2 separate regions of the Homo sapiens genome follow, and region 2 is linked to region 1. A link means that fine-mapping ties the variant in region 1 to the expression of a gene that starts in the linked region. Tissue or cell type: monocytes after Pam3CSK4. Region 1 holds a variant in brackets; the other region holds the start of a gene. All regions are shown on one strand. Distances are between the middles of the regions.

Evidence for each region. PIP is the estimated chance that this variant, and not a neighbour inherited with it, causes the effect.
Region 2: it holds the start of TMEM131, and the variant in region 1 is fine-mapped to the expression of TMEM131 in monocytes after Pam3CSK4 (Quach 2016, PIP 0.95).

Annotation. Positions count from the first base shown.
Region 1 is chr2:97,822,993-97,831,099 of GRCh38, reverse strand. The region is part of intron 11 of TMEM131 (transmembrane protein 131); the gene reads left to right. It also overlaps the pseudogene HMGN1P36. Among named protein-coding and RNA genes, the nearest start is that of ZAP70, 110 kb to the right of the region's middle. The variant A/T (reference allele first, on the strand shown) is at 4,008.
Region 2 is chr2:97,991,173-97,999,279 of GRCh38, reverse strand. It overlaps TMEM131 (transmembrane protein 131), which reads left to right and starts at 3,332. Exons shown (of 41, transcript NM_015348.2): 1 at 3,332-3,804. The coding sequence starts at 3,618. LOC124905591 (a long non-coding RNA gene) reads right to left here and starts at 1,637. Exons shown (of 2, transcript XR_007087148.1): 1 at 386-1,637. RefSeq lists enhancers at 2,623-2,902, 3,073-3,586, 5,219-5,298 and silencers at 3,123-3,372, 3,483-4,042.

The DNA of each region.
Region 1 (8,107 bases):
TAGATTTCCCACCTTATCAGCTATGGGGCAAGCCCACCTACCGTGGAAACTGAGTTTTCAGAGCTCTTCTTAAGGTTTTCCCTGTGTGTTTCAGCATTTTCTGCATAATTCACCAGGCTTAGAGACTATAGATATTTAGAAAGGTTCCTGTCTCCTTTTGTTTCACAAACATAGAATTTTCAGGATTTGCTAAGCAGTGCTAGAAGCTGGAGATCTTTTTTTTAAATTCCCCTTCAGGGAATTCATTCTCTTTCTAAATATAGGATTACTAAAGCAAGCAATTCCAAATAGAAGTTCCTCAACTGCTAACAGACAGGATGCGCAGGTCCAAACTCTCCTAATATGTCTATAATGCAACTTTGAGAAAATGGCTTTCCTCAGCATTTACAAAACATTAGTGCTGTATAAATGATGGAGTAAGTTTGCCTGAGATGCCTTCAGAGGAATGTTTGCATGAGGTTTCCCTTGGTAATTAACAAATCGGAATCATAATATCAGCTTAACATATGCTTTAGTGAACTCATACACAAATTATTAGAAATACAATGTTAAATGCTGAAAGTGCTTTTTTCCTTATTTGCTCAAGTGCTTTTATAAGCAGTTTTAGAATGTTCCGGACCGTTGAATTTCACTTGAGGGTTACTGAGCATTAGTTGGGTCTGAATGTTGTGAGAAAAGCCTAGAACTATATTTAGAACATATGCAAGCTTGCGAACTGCCTTTCCTGGGAAACTTGCAATAGTTTTATACTTCTTGATTATCTTTGAGTTAGCAATAGTCACTAACAGGTTGTTGTATAAATATGCTTACTACAAGGTGTTGATTGTGTATGAGTTGTCATTTAAAGCCACCAGAATGGGCCAGCTACTTAAGTGTTTTGTCTTGGGTTTGTTTGTTGGCTTTTTGTTTCCCTGGAAAATGGGTTTTAACAATTTGGGTTTGGTTTTTTTTTTTTTTTTTTTTTTTTAACTGATAATGAGTGAAGAATTCAGACCATTTGTATAAAACATGAGTTTTCAGTTGAATATTTCTTTGTTATTACTGCAGCGTATTTTAAGGTAGCAATACTAATGTAAAGTTTTTATCTGGTAAGGAAAATCTTAAAGTGGTGTGTTTCACATGAAAAAAATTTCATCAACTATTTTAAATTCTTACTAATAGTGACTATATTTTAACAAACATCCTTGCTTTGCTATTTCTGGCTTGGTGTTGTACAGGCTGATAACACTCAAAAAATATTGTGCTTGTTGTTGATGAACTCCCACTTCTAGCCTTTAAGCATATTGAAAAATGGTCAAGCCTTCATTGTGTGTCCAGAGTTGGTTCCTTCTGGTGGGTTCTTGGTCTCTCTGACTTGAAGAATGAAGCCATAGACCTTCGTTGTGAGTGTTACAGCTCTTAAAGGTGGTGCGGACCCAAAGAGTGAACAGCAGCAAGATTTATTAAGAGCGAAAGAACAAAGCTTCCACAGCGTGGAAGGGGACCCTAGTTGCCTCTGCTGGCTTGGGTGGCTAGCTTTTATTCCGTTATTTGGCTCCCCGCCATGTTCTGCTGATTCGTCCATTTTACAGAGCGCTGATTGGTCCATTTTACAGAGTGCTGATTGTTGCATTTACAATCCTTTAGCTAGACACAGTGCTGACTGGTGCATTTTTACAGAGTGCTGATTAGTGCATTTACAATCCTTTAGCTAGACACAGAGCGCTGATTGGTGCGTTTTTACCGAGTGCTGATTGGTGCATTTACAATCCTTTAGCTAGATACAGAGCGCTGATGGGTGCATTTTTACAGAGTGCTGATTGTTGCATTTACAATCCTTTAGCTAGGCACAGAGCACTGATTGGTGTGTTTACAGTCCTCTAGCTAGACAGAAAAGTTCTCCAAGTCTCCACTCAACCCAGGAAATCCAGCTGGCTTCCCCTCTCAATCCCCCCTCTAAATAGGACACCCCAACTGCTGTTGGGAATTGGGCAATGATCATTCTAGCTACTTCCTACTGGATAAGGGCAAAGAAGGGACCCTGCAGTGGTAGTGTCCTCCAGAGGGGAACTGTCTAGGCCAGTCAAAGGGCCAGTGGGTCGATCCAGGGGTCCTTGGTAGAAGTTGTTAGTTGAGCTTATTTGGGGTTCCATTTGTAAGACCATCTGTAGCTTGATGGCCTCGATCGTAGAGGAAACAAATTTGACAAGGAGATTAAAAATACAGGGCCCAAAGGCGAGTAATAGCAAGATGGCTGTCACAGGACCTAGAAAGGGAAGATGCCATGTTCCCCAACTCCAGAGGTTGGTATAAGAGTTGGAAAGGCATTGAAAGAGTTTGAAAGGCGTTGTCTGATTTCAGAAGCCTTTTCCTGTAAACGCTGTAGTATCCCTGACTGGTTAGTGTAAAAAAACACTCTTCTCCTAAGAAGGTGCAAAGTCCTCCTTTCTCAGCAGTGAGGAGGTCTAGGCCTCAGCAGTTTTGGAGAGTCACTGCTGCCAAAGAGTCTATTTGGGATTGTAGAGTAAGGATAGATTTCATTATTTCTTGCAAACTGTCTGAGAAATCCTTTGAGAGTTTGTGGTAGTAGGATAATGATGTAGATAAACCTGCTATTCTGGTTCCTGTAGCAGTGGCCATCTCTAACCCTATAAGTAGGGGTGTTAGTTGTATGGCCCTGTGCTGAGACACTTGAGCTTTGAGGGGCACAGACCCTATGTCTGATTTCCATAAGATTAGAAGTTAGGATAATATATGTTACACTTTTTTTTTTTCATAATTGAGATTTCATTGGTTGAGGATCGTACAGACATTTCAATTTGTACACAAATCTTAACATACATAACGAAATTCTAAAAAGCCATGTATTGTAATTATTTTTTAAAGTTATTCCAGTGACTTTCCAGCTTAAAATTTGGAAGCAAATTTTCCTTAAGAGGCTATCAAGTACCAGTATCTTCACATGTTGGTCAGCTGTTACATACAGCCCACCAGTTCACAACTCAATAGCACGTACACTACATATTCAAATTTGTAATCTTTCACAGCACAGTAACAAAGTTATTAGGAAAACAGGACTACCACAACCAAAGATGTTACAGAGTGCACACAATTCTGGCAGAGAGAGCCATGATCAAAGAGTGGTTTTCTTTAGGAAACAATTCTACTAAAAAACAACATGGTAATAGAAGTAATTTAAAATGTTCAAGACATTAAATGCAGGACTGACTCCATATTGCCATTTAATATGCTTTGTATTATAGGATATAAAAACTAACCCCCCATCTATGGAATGTTAAGCTGACACCCGAGACAATCAGAGCCTCCCATAATTCAATATCCCACACTATTTTCTGGTTGTACCAAAAAATAAACAACCAGCAAATGATTTCACCTCTTAAAAAAAAGCATTTACACTTAAAAAATGGGATGAGGTGGGATTCCCTCCTTCTTAAAAATGTTTCTAGAGCTACTAAAAAACTTGCATTTACAAAATAGTTGATAAAAATATTCCTCTGGATTGTACAAGAAGGGAGACAGGGACCACTGATAAGACATGGTATATGGTTATTAATCAGACTTGGCTTCTTTCTCTCCTGCTTCATCAGAGGCTGGACTCTCCTCAGTTTTCGTTTCCCCATTTTCTGCAGGTAAATCTTCTTTAGTTTCTTGGTTAGCCACTTCGGCCTGTTTTCCCTTTGCTCCCCTTTTCCCTTTTGTTTGCACGTTTTTGTCTGAAGATTTATCCTTCGCTGCTGCCTTTTTCGGCTTTGCTTCCACTTTTGCAGGAGGTTTAGCTGACAACCGCGCCGATCTCCTCTTGGGCTCTTCCTTGGCAGCGGCTTCAGCGGAGCTGACCTTCCTCTTGGGCATCCTGGCGGCGGGGAAGGCGCGTGCCAGGTGCCTGCGGGCCGCGGCGCGCCAAGAGCCTTCACGAAACTGGGCTGCCTTGCCGCTGCCACTCCTCCCCAACACTGTTAACTTTTAGCAAACTTTTGTTGAAAACCTTGTAAGTTTGGGATTTTAAA[A/T]TTTTTTTTTTTTTTTTTTTTTTTGCTTATCACTTACTGAATACCCATTGTGTCTTTTTCCCTTAATTGCTTGGGAGGAACCATCTATCGTCCTGTCCTGAAGGGAGTTCCTCCTAGGTCTGGTCGGACCTTTGTATAGTAATTAGTTAAGATTTAGATCCCCTGTTAGGAAACCTGCTGGGTTAAGGATTTTTGATAGGAAGGCTACTGGTTGTCAGTGACCTCAGTGCTTTCAGGCTATGTCCTTGTTTACTCTGACAGCAAGGTGGTATTGGAGTGTTATAGGGTTACAGAGAAGACCTTCAATTATCAATTATAGGTTTTAAATTTACCCTGGCTTTTAAAGGACTAGGGTACACTTTTTTCTTTACTACTTCCATTTCTTTTTCTTTCTCTTTGACTTCTTTTTTGTCTCTCTTTTTTTCTCTTTCTGACTTCCTCTTTGTCTCTTCCCCTCTCTCACTGTTTCTCTTTCTCTCTGACTTCCTCTTTGTCTCTGTCTCTTCCTCTCTCTCTCTGACTTTCTGTCTCTTTCTCTCTTTCCTTTCTGCTGGTCTTTCCCTGCCTCTGCCAGCTGCTTATGCTGCTGTTCTCCCTTCTCCTTCCCCTTTTGATGGCTTCGGCGGTGTGAGACTGCCACCTCTTTGGATTTTTGTACTGCGTGCAATAACTCCATAATTTCCTTGTGGTATTTAATGGGGGTTCCCCTAGAGGTTAGGAACTCCCTTTCTTTCCATATTGCAGCATGGGCATGTAGGAATAGATAAGCATACTTGCTATCTGTATACACACATTTATTCTTTTTCCCTTTCTCAGTTTTAAGGCTCAGGTAAGTGCCACTAGTTCTGCTAACTGGGTGCTGCTCCCTAGGAGAAGAGGCTTACTTTCAAGTACGGTTGCATCATTAACTATGGCATAACCTGCCCTTCATATCCCATTTTCCACAAATGAACTTTCATCAGTATATAGGTTAAGTTCAGGATTAGCTAAGGGGACTTCTAAGAGATCATCTCAGGTGGCATAAATCTGGACTATAATTTGTCAGCAGTCATGCTCGATTGGTTCCCCATCCTCTGGGAGAAAAATGGCAGGGCTGAGGGCCACACATGTACATATTTGAAGCACCGGTTGCTCAAGGAGTAGCATCTGCTATCTAAGTAGGCGGTTGTCTGATAGCTATAAACTTCCTTTGGCACCTACTATGCCATTTACATCATGAGTAGTCCAGACAGTGAGATCCTTTCCTTGTATTATTTTGATAGCCTCTGACACTAAGATGGCCACTGCCACAACCACTCATAAACAGTGAGGCCAGCCTTTTGCTACTACATCAGTTTTCTTACTTAGGTATGCCGCTGGTTGTGGGGTTGTCCCACGAGTCTGAGTAAGGACTCCAAGAGCTATCCCTGCTCTCTCTCTGACGTATAAAGAGAAGTGTTGTCCTGTGAGAAGGCTTAAAGCTGGAGCTTGTAGTAGGGCCTGCTTTAAGGTTTTGAAGGCTGTTTCTGCCTCTGGTTCCTATTCTACTAGATGAGTATCTGCCCTCTGGGTCTCCTTGATTAGAGCATAGAGTGGTCTGGCCATCTTGCTGTATCCGGGGATCCATAGTCAACAAAAGCTGGTGATGCCAAGGAACCCCCGTAACTGTTTTGTCTTAGGGTGAGGATAAGCCAGTATAGGCTGTATTCATTCCTTGCTGAGGGCACTGGTCCCTCTAGCTAAGATTAGGCCTAGATATTTGACCTGCTGTAGGCAAAGCTGGGCCTTCGACCTAGATGCCTTGTACCCTTGATTAGCTAGAAAGTTCAAGAGATCTAGAGTAGCCTGCTGGCATGAGGCTTCCGAACTGATAGCCAAAAGTAAGTCATCCACATACTGAAGGACCAGAGTGCCTGGACTTGAGAAGTGGCCTAGATCATGGGCCAGTGCCTGACCAAACAGATGAGGGCTATCCCTAAACCCTTGGCATAAGACCGTCCACATAAGTTGGGACATGTGGTCTGTGGGATCCTCAAAGACAAAGAGAAACTGGGAGTCAGAGTGCAGGGGAATACAGAAGAAGACATTCTTGAGGTCCAGAACAGTGAACCATTCTGCTTTCTCTGGTATTTGAGAGAGCAGGGTATAGGGGTTGGGTACAACTGGATATAGAGGAATTACTGCCTCACTGATGAGTCTAAGATCTTGCACTAGTCTAAGATCTCCACTGACCATTCGGTTTTTGTACTCCTAGAATTGGGGTGTTGCAGGGACTGCTGCATTTCCTTACTAAGCTTTGAGCTTTTAAATGTTTAACAATATCCTGTAATCCTTTATGAGCTTCAGGCCTTAAGGGATATTGCCTTTGATAAGGAAAAGTAGTGGAGTCTTTTAGCCTGATTTGAACTGGGTGGGCATTTTTTGCCCTTCCAAATTGTCCTTCCAATGCAGAGACTTCAGGGTTGATTCCCTCCTCAAGTAGGGGACAACAAATGGGTAACTTGTTCCCCATATTCATGTAGGTAATAGCTCCAGCTTTGGCTAATATATCTCTCCCTAATAAGGGTGTGGGACTTTCAGGCATAACGAGAAAGGCATGTGAAAAGAGCAAAGTCTCCCAATTACAACTCAGGAGGTGGGAGAAATACCTGGTTACAGGCTGTCCCAGGATTCCTCGGATGGTAATGGACCTTGAGGACCGTCGTCCAGGACAGGAGATTAACACTGAGAAGGCTGCACCAGTGTCCAGGTGGAAGTCAATTTCCTGGCCTTCAATGGTTAAACGTACCCAGAGCTCAGTGAGGGTGATGACATGAGCTGGCACTTGCCCCGGGCACCCTCAGTCCTGCTGTTGGATTATCTGGTTGGGGGCTTCTGGCCTAGAGAACCTTTGCCCTCTGGGGCAGTGTGCCTTCCAGTGATTGCCTCAGCATAGTGGACATGGGTGAGGGGGTGGCTTATTTTTCATTGGACAATCTTTTTTAAAGTGTCCTTGTAAACCACACTGATAACAAGCCCTACCAGGTGATTGGCCTGCTCAATTTTCTTTCCTCTCTGAACCACCAAGGTTTGTTTGAGGGCCTTGACTAAGGCTGTGGCCTTTCTCTGATCTCGCTTTTCCTTTTGGGCCTGTTCCTCTTGGTCCCTATTATAGAACACCGAGGTTGCCAGGATTAATAATGCCTCCAGATTTTGTTCAGGGCCCAGGGCTTGCTTTTGGACCTTCCTCCTGTTATCTGTGGCTGATTGGGTAATAAACTCATCTTTTAGGATCAGTTGACCCCCAAGGGAGTTGGGTGACAGGAGAGTATATTTCCTTAAGACCTCCCGTAGCTGCTCGAGGAAGGCAGAAGGATTTTCTTCCTTTCCCTGAGTTATGGTGGACATCATTGAATAACTCATGGGCTTTTTCCTAATTCTTCTTAGTCCTTCCAGAACACAGGTCAGCAGATGTTTACAACTCCAGTCCCCATGATCTTGAGTCTAGATCCCAGTGGGCATCCATACTGGGGATGGCTTGCTGACCGGTAGGGAATTTGTCCCTTTCTTCAGCTGTCATTCTATCATTTACTTGGCTAAGACACCAGGTATCTCCAAATTCTTGGGCTGCAGCTAAAGCCGCATTTTTTTCATTAAAGGCCAGGGTTTGATCTAACAATAGCATGACATCTCTCCAAGTGAGATCAAAGGTTTGCCCTAGACCATGTAGGACATCTGTATACCTATCAGGATCATTTGAAAGCTTCCCCAGGTCTGCCTTGATCTGCTTTAAATCAGAGAGGGAGAAGGGGACAGGTACCCAGGTTGGGCCAAATTCCTCTCCCCCTACAGCTTGAAGGGGACATAACCGATAGCCCGGGGAGTTTTGTGGTACCTTGGAGATTTCTTTGCTTGTTTCCTTCTGGGTGGGGGAAATTAGAGGAGGCTTATCATTAATAGGAAGGTGAACTATAGGGAGGCTAGGATATGGGGGTAAGCTGAGAGGTCCTCCTGTGGGATGTAAATTGCAAGCTTTGCATAGTTGTGGATTCTCCGTCAATGAAAAGAAAGCTTAGAGATAAGGTATTTCACTCTACTTGCCTTCCCTCTTACAGAAAAGGTCAAGCTGCAGGATAGTATTA
Region 2 (8,107 bases), 170 kb before region 1:
CCCAACAGTTTACTCCCTCCTAGTTCCAGTTTTAATTCATAGAAGGCATTCTTGCACACCTCCTTAAGTATTTTGTGGAATGAAGTGGAGGTATCAATGGATCAAGGATCTTCGTGCCTAATGTGGTGTTTTGAAAAGAGTGAGTGCTCACTAATAGCTACTTTTGACAGTCTCCTATGTCCCAGACACTAGTCTATATGCTTCACAAACCTATATGCTTAATCTCCCCAAATTTATATCATAATCCCCATTTTTACAGATTAGGAATCTGAGGCCAGAAAAGTCATTTGCTCAGCATCATATAGCTAGTAAAGGCAGGGATGGGATTTAAGTTCAAATTTGTCTGAGTCTCTTATAATTCTGCCTTGAATGGTAAATTACTAACCTGCATAGAGAGCAAAATGAACAGAAAGTGAGGAGTCCCAACAGCTTGTAGCTCCTGGCATATATCACTGTGCAACAGTCTTCAATCTTGAGCCTGTATCAGAATCACTTGGATGCCTTGTTTAAACAGATTGTTGGACCTCAACCCAGAATTCCTGATTCCACAGGTCTGGGATTTGGCCTGCTAATTTGCACTTCTAACAGGTTCCCAGGTGTTGCTGCTACAGCTGGTCTGGGGATGACACCTTGAGAACCACTGGTTTAGCGAGTTTTCCCTGACTCTGCCAGCTAATACCTCCACCTGCCAAATGGCCAGGTCTCTCCAATTTCCAAAAGGGAAAAAGAGAAAAGTTCACAACTAATCAGAACTATTTGAGAGTCCTTAGTGTGATGGTTCCTTCAATTTTAACTCCTGGTTCTCTCCTGAGACACATGAGGGTTGGGGAGTGGGGGTAGAGGATCATAGGGTGATGGTGGCTCCACGCCAGGTTCTCTCTAACACACAGTTTACCATGCTGTCTAGCAAAACGTCTTTCACTGTTAGACTCTCAGTGGCCTCATTGTCCTTTCCTGGGAGGAAAGTTCCATCATCACCCCTCCTGCTCCTAGTGTCCCTCAGGCACAGGGGAGGGTTCAGGTATGGTGGGCCTTAAAAGCCTACCCAACTATTGGGAGGGCTCCTTTAAGAACAAGAATACAGGCTTATAAATACACAATTAGGTTCAGGGACTTGGAAGGAACTTGTGCAAGAGAGGGGGCCCTGCGGCTTAAGCTTCATTAGCTGCATGGGAAATCGAACTCTGATCAAACATGTCTGTATACGTCTAAAGATCCAATTACAGACAGGTGCAAGTTATTTCCCATGGAGCTGCTGAGCCTCAGGCTAACCAGGGGATGTGGCTGATTGCTGTGTAAGAGAACCTCAGCACTTCATGGTTGGAAAGGCTTGTTTGTCCTGAATCTGGCCATGGGGGAAGGGCTGCTGACTTGCAGAGCTAGCACGTTGGAGGCTAAGCAAAAGCGCTCAGTTACATATCCTTGGGTTTGATCTCTTCCGTGAGTCAAAAGCCTTCCAGAAATCTCTTGCCTCAGACATTTTAAACGCCAACTTAAGAGATAATTATTCCTATTTCATTACATCAAAATAAAATTTGACTACTCAATTTTAAGGCTAATATTCAAAAAAGTAAAATTGCTTATGATTAATTTTTTGAGACGGAGTTTTGCTCTTGTCGAGGGTATAGTGCAGTGGCGCTATCTTGGCTCACTGCAACCTCCACCTGCCGGGTTCAAGCGTTTTTCCTGCCTCCGGAGTAGCTGGGATTACAGGCATGCACTACCACGCCCGGCTAATTTTTATATTTTTTAGTAGAGACGGGTTTTCACCATGTTGGCCAGGCTGGTCTCGAACTCCTGACCTCAGGTGATCCGCCCACCTTGGCCTACCAAAGTGCTGGGATTACAGGCGTGAGCCACTGCGCCCTGCCCTAAAATTGCTTTTTAAAATCATTAGGCTAAGGTCATATTTAAATATATATTAATTTATGAATAAATTTAAGTGCTTGCTTGACACAGGGGACTACTTCATAGAGTAGATTCTGGAGTTCCTTTTGTCTTTCTGAAACCTTATTTTCCTATCTAGCTTGTTCTGAGACGTACTGTGGGCAGACTTGGCCTTACACATATATCGACTCACTCAACAAATACAGCTAAGGAAAGTAAAATGTCTCTGGGCTACAAGCTGGGAGGAAGTTACTAAGATGAGTAAAGAAGGACCCCCTCCAAGAGCTTAAATTAAGTCTTGGAGACAACAGCCATGCGCACCAAGAAGCTCAACCTAAGATGAAAAGGGCATCTAAGAGGCGCGAGATGGCTCGTGAAGGTAACAGACGTCTTAAGAATTTTTCCGGGCCCAGCACAGTGGCTCACGCCTGTGATCCCAGCACTCTGGAAGGCCGAGGAAGGCGGACTGCTTGAGCCCAGGAGTTCGAGACCTGCTCGGCCAACATAGTGAGACAGCGTTTCTTAAAAGAAAAAGAAAAATTGGCGTGGCGTGGTGGCGGGTGCCTGTAGTCCCAGACCGCACCACTGCACTCCAGCCTGGGCGGCAGAACCAGACCCTGTCTCAAAAATAAATAAATAATTAAAAAATAAAGAAAAGAAAAAAAAGAATTCTTCCTCGAGAGAGGAAGCCGGCTACTGGATATTCTAAAGAGCAGTCTGTTTGCCCCTGCCTTCTCCATCCAGAGTCACCGACGCTTTCTGCACACGAGGTGTTCCGCGCCAATGTGGGCACAAGCCAAGGCAAGAGGACTCCATCAAGCTCCTCCTGGGTACCATGATTTGGAAGACCCAAGGATGAGTTCAGCGGGCCACCATCCTCAAGGAAGCACCATCAAGAACTGAGTCAGGCCCGGGGTATTCTCGACGTCAAAGCGGTCGAGAGGTGGGGGTGCCACCAGGAAGAGTCACTGGAACGGACCTTCCGCGCTCGTCTCGCGGTCTGTATGCGCACTCACACCCCTGGAAGGCTCTACCACTGTAGGACAGAGCACGGAGGATTGCCCAGGCGCCGGAGAAGAGGTTAGCGCCCCGCAACTCCGCCCCTGCCCCGCCCACGCAACGCGGCGGCTGCGCGGCGAGGCCGCCCCGTCTCCACGTGATTGCCGACACCGCCTCCGCGAAGCAGAAGCCGCCATCATAAGTCCTGGCAGCTGGACCTGGGCCTGCCTCCCTCCTTCTCCTGCGCCAGGTAGCGGTAACGGGCTGGGGTTGTTCTGTCCTGGTTCTGTCTGGCCGTGAAGCCGCAGGCCTCCGAGAGCGGGACGAGGAGGTGGGGCCCAGGGGGCTCCGGGGCGGACAGACTGACCGCCGGACAGCCCAGGTGTCGGCACAGCGTGGGCGGTGCCCAGAGCCGCGCCCCGCCCCTCGCAGGCCAGCGCTCAGGGCTCGCGGGCCGTGCCCGTTTCCAGTATGGCCGCCCGCCGCGCCTGACCCGCGGCCTCTCCGCTCCGACTGCTTGTAGGCGATGCCCAGGCAAAGACCGTGACTGACACTCTCGCTCACACGCACGCACGGACCCAGGCCCACGCTCGGAGATCGAGCCCCGGGCTCGCAACCGTTGTCGCTCCCGGCGCCGCGGCCAGAGCCCGGACCACGGCTTCCGCGCCGCCGCCGCCTCGCCGAGAAGGGCCGCGCCGGACCTCGAGCGCGGCGGCCCCCGGCCGGCAGGGATGGGGAAGCGGGCGGGAGGAGGAGCAACCGGAGCCACCACCGCCGCCGTCTCCACGTCCGCCGGGGCCGGGCTGGAACCTGCGGCCGCCCGTAGCGGGGGCCCGCGGAGCGCGGCCGCCGGCCTCCTAGGCGCGCTGCACCTGGTGATGACCCTCGTAGTGGCTGCGGCGCGGGCCGAGAAGGAAGGTGGGTGTCCCCCGGCGGCGTCCCTGCGGCGGGGCTGTCACCCCGCTCTCGCGGAGGCCGGGAGGGCTGGGCCGGGAGGAAGGGCCGCGGCCGGGGCTCCGGCGCAAAGTTGGGCGGTCGGGTACCGTCCCGAGCCGGGACCTCGCGGCGCCCGCCGCACGGAGTGGCCTTCGCTCTCCGTGATTCCTTCCCGTGCCTTCCCCCGTCTCCTGTCACTGCCATTTCAAAACTTCCTGACTTCTCGTACGTTCTTGCCACTTGGCCCGCTAGGTAGGAGGGGCATATTTTTTGGCTTTATTGCGGCGAATAGGTACATTTTAGGACACTTCTGTTTTCTTGGTTGCGGTTGGTTGCATGCAGACAGAGCTTACTTTAAAATGTGGTAAAAATAGCGAGACACAGCTTAAAAAATTTCACTTTGAATTTGTTCAGACATTTCTTCGAGGGGAAATCTTGGTCCTGTAGCTTCCTCCTTTAGTGTCTCTGCGTTATTGATAACTTTATTATTAGACCTAAATACAATTCCATTTAACTCTTTAGTAAGCTGTTGAAAGCCTGTTTACATTTCTTATTTTAAAATACGTGATTCGGTGCCTTTATCTTTGATGTGAAAGCCTTTAAAAATAAACGTGAAGTTGCCAGCTTGCAAGCATTTATCTATAATTTACAGTTAAGGGCTGGCCCCTATTTTAAAAATCTCATTAGTATTGTACTGCTGCAAAACGGGTACTTGGACAGGGTCAAAAATTATTTTGTAATCTTGAAGACCAAATCAGTGTAATTTCATCTACACTACCTCTTTTTGAGCCAAGGGACATGTGAATGGTCACAGAGCCTTCATGAAGAATTGACTAAGTGAATAGTTTAAAAAAAAAACAAACCACGCAAAACTTGTTAGTTTAGCATTGCACATGAAACTGCCTGTACAAGAAAACAATTTCTTGCCACGGTAATTTTAGAGTTAACATTCTACTTTATGACTAAAGTCACTTGCTTTTTATTGTTGCTGAAGGTGAAAGCAAATACAAACCAAATTAGTATTAAAGTGCAAATGTGCTTCAGTATACTGTTTCTTTTATTTTTGTCCACATTACATTCCCTTATCTAACTCTCTAAGCAACCTTAGTCTGAGTTAACATTGGTGGAAATTATTCAAAGAATTGTCGTCTATAGAAAGGATTAATTGATGGAAGCAAAATTATTTCCAGAATAAAATATTGCCGCTTTAGGACTAGTCGGTCCTGGGGTTGTCATAATACATCATTGGCCACAGATCTGCAGTTAGTTGAGTGTTCTTTCTTATGTGTGATCGTGGCACCTAGCATTTTGGCCTGTAGTGGGTGTTCAGTGAACCCAAAATAGTGCAGTAATTTAATGGACATTTTTTGGGTGGGACTTCAAGTAGACCTTGGTGGGTATTGTGTCCTTGTTTTTCTGTTCCTTTGCTTACCTTGCACAGTGCCAGACACACTGGCGCTTAGCCTTTGAGTGAATGACTGTCTTCATGCGCCCTTAGCACAGGGAATTGAAATAATGGTTGAATCTAGTAAAGCATTAAGTTTGTATTTTCCTTCTACTGCTGCTGATTTTTCCAACAGCCATTTTATATGCTAATAAAAACTTTACTCTGGGTAAAGTTAAGTAAACAAACCTTTTGTTTGAGAACTGTCAGCCTAAAATATATTTGCTAATTTCTCATTTGCATAGTTTATACATGTTAGTGCACCTCTCTAATACCCATAAATGTGTGTAAGGATTGGATGAGGAGAATACTTGCCAGGGTGTTAAGTATGTATTAAAGGGGTGGTTGAATCAGCCAGTGGCCTGGGTGAATCAGATATCCTTTGTGGCCCATGCTTTTCTGTATGAACAATTTGTGTGTGCGGTTATCCAAGATATTAATGGAGATGATGCTGATATAGAACATAGGCCTCTACCCATCATAAACAGATCTGGTTCTAATCAAATATTCTGTGAAGGTATCTCCAGAAATGGCTTCTCCTTTAAAACTGATCATATTCCAGTATTGTTTCTGAGTAAGTAGGGGAAAAGCAATTTATTTTCTTACGTGATTGTGACACTGTGAGTCTGGCATCTGATGAGGCACAAATACAGTATTTGTCCTAAAAGGTACTGTTGAGTTTTTCAGCAAGTTTGGGCAGATTTCTGAAGATGGCTGAGTTCAGTTTGATCATTCACACCCGGAGGAATTTTGTGTCTATTGAAGTAGCATAAACTAGTTTAAAATTTCAAAGTTAAGATTTACCTGCAGTTTTAATGATGATTCTGCAGGTATTTTGTATGTTTGTATTTCTTTTCCTTCATTACTGTATAATTTCACTGCAAAATCTTTAAAAGACAATAAAACTCATTGTCTCCTGAAGAAAAGCTGCAGAAATAAATTACCTAATGTAGTTTTTCATGTTTGGACTTGATGTTGATTTTCTTGAGTCAGAAGCATGGACCATTCCTTGTCTTAACATCCTATATGACTTAACTGAGCTATGGGAGTGTGCTATCACTAGTCCAGAGGAAAGGTACCTTTGAGATGGTTTTGGCTGTGATGTAAAGTTTGTAAGGACTTTGAAAGAGTTTCCAGAGATAGAAGTTGTTATAATCACTACAAATAACTAGTTCTAGATTGGTGGCAAGATTTTGTCTTGAGGCTAACATCTAGATACTGAGAATAGCAAAAATGTGTGTGAGTTGTGAAAATATATTTTTAAAATATATAGTGAAAATACATGTGTATGTGTATATATTAAATGTATACTTTTAGTAGTCTTTTGAATTATAAAGCAGCCCATTATGACTGGCAAATAAGACCTTTTTTAAAAAAGCATTATATATCATGTAATATAATTTCATTGTGAAGTGGGTTTTTGGAAGGCATTTATTATAAATGAGAAGCTATAGTTTATGTATCTAGTAAATATAAATTCGAATAAGTTTTCAAGAATGTTTCAATTTATGACAATTTAAATTTCATTGTCACATGTTTTATTAATTGGCAATTAAATGGCAGGGTAACGTTTGACAGCCTTTATTAGGACTTTAAAAATTTTTTGCCAGTGTACTATAGTTTCATGCACAAATTTTTGTTTTAAGCTGTATTTGTGACATAGGTGCAAAACACAGTACAAAAGTATTTACAAAGCATATGAGAAAAGTGCATAGGACTAAAGACCACAAGAAAACAGATAAGAATCTAATAGTTTTCTAAGGGTAGCCAAATTGACTAGGAGTGTTATTTACTTTTTCTTAACCAAACTATTTTTAACCTACTTATTACTCGATAATGTTAAAATGTTTTTGAAAGTGATTTTCTTAAGAGTGAGATGTGTTAACCCTTTGTATGGGGTAGAGTGGGTACCTTTTAATTTAGGGCCTTGTAAATAGAATGTTATTTAATAAGTGCTTCACTAATGAACGTTTGTAGCCTGCTTTTACTAAAGGCTGTTGCCTGATGGAGCATTGGAGTTTTGTAGTTGGAAAAAGTGTGTCCTTTTTTCCTCTTGCTAATGACCATTTTCCTCCTCCTTCTAATTCTTACAGTGGACCCTCATAGACATCTGCCAACAAGATTGCTTTGGGAGTAGATGTAAACTCATCTAATTGTTACTATCCAGAGTAGCAATAAGCCAAATTACTCTTGGAGGAAAATAAAATCTTTGCTAGGTGCTTGATATTTTAGGTGTTCTCTCTCTTGCCTATATGTGACTCAAGCGCTCTGATTGGCCTTGCCAGACCAAGAGGCCCTTTTCCTACAGCTGAATTTTCCCCTACGGTCTCTTGTAAGCAGCATCTGGCATTGTTTCGGTGACTCTGTACTTCTCGGTTCTGGTTGTGCCCTAGCTGACAGTTGCTGCTCTCCAATTGCCTGTTGGTTGTCTTCCTCCCTGTGTGTGTCTAGCTGCTGGTGCACACTGCATGTGTCCAGGGCAGAATTATCTTGCGCCACCTCCAGTTTTCAGTTTTTTATTAATGCTATGATTATTCTGCCTGCCCCACTGGATTCAGTTTTGACCCTTCACCAAGTGGCATCAGTGCCTGTTACATCCTCTTTTGATCACTCTCCCACTGCCTTCACCATGGGGCACTGCAGCAGCCTCTCTCCTACCGCCTTTCGCCATTTCTGTTCAGTCCTGCATGCTCCCTCTGAATTTGTGGTCTTTGTTAATCATTCATCATTCATTTTGACACCTAATTGTGTACTGCCTTGTTAGCTACTTAAATGATTTCAGGGGTGTCATTCTTCACCTAGGCTGGAATTTCTGTAGGGCAGAACCTTTGTCAACATCTG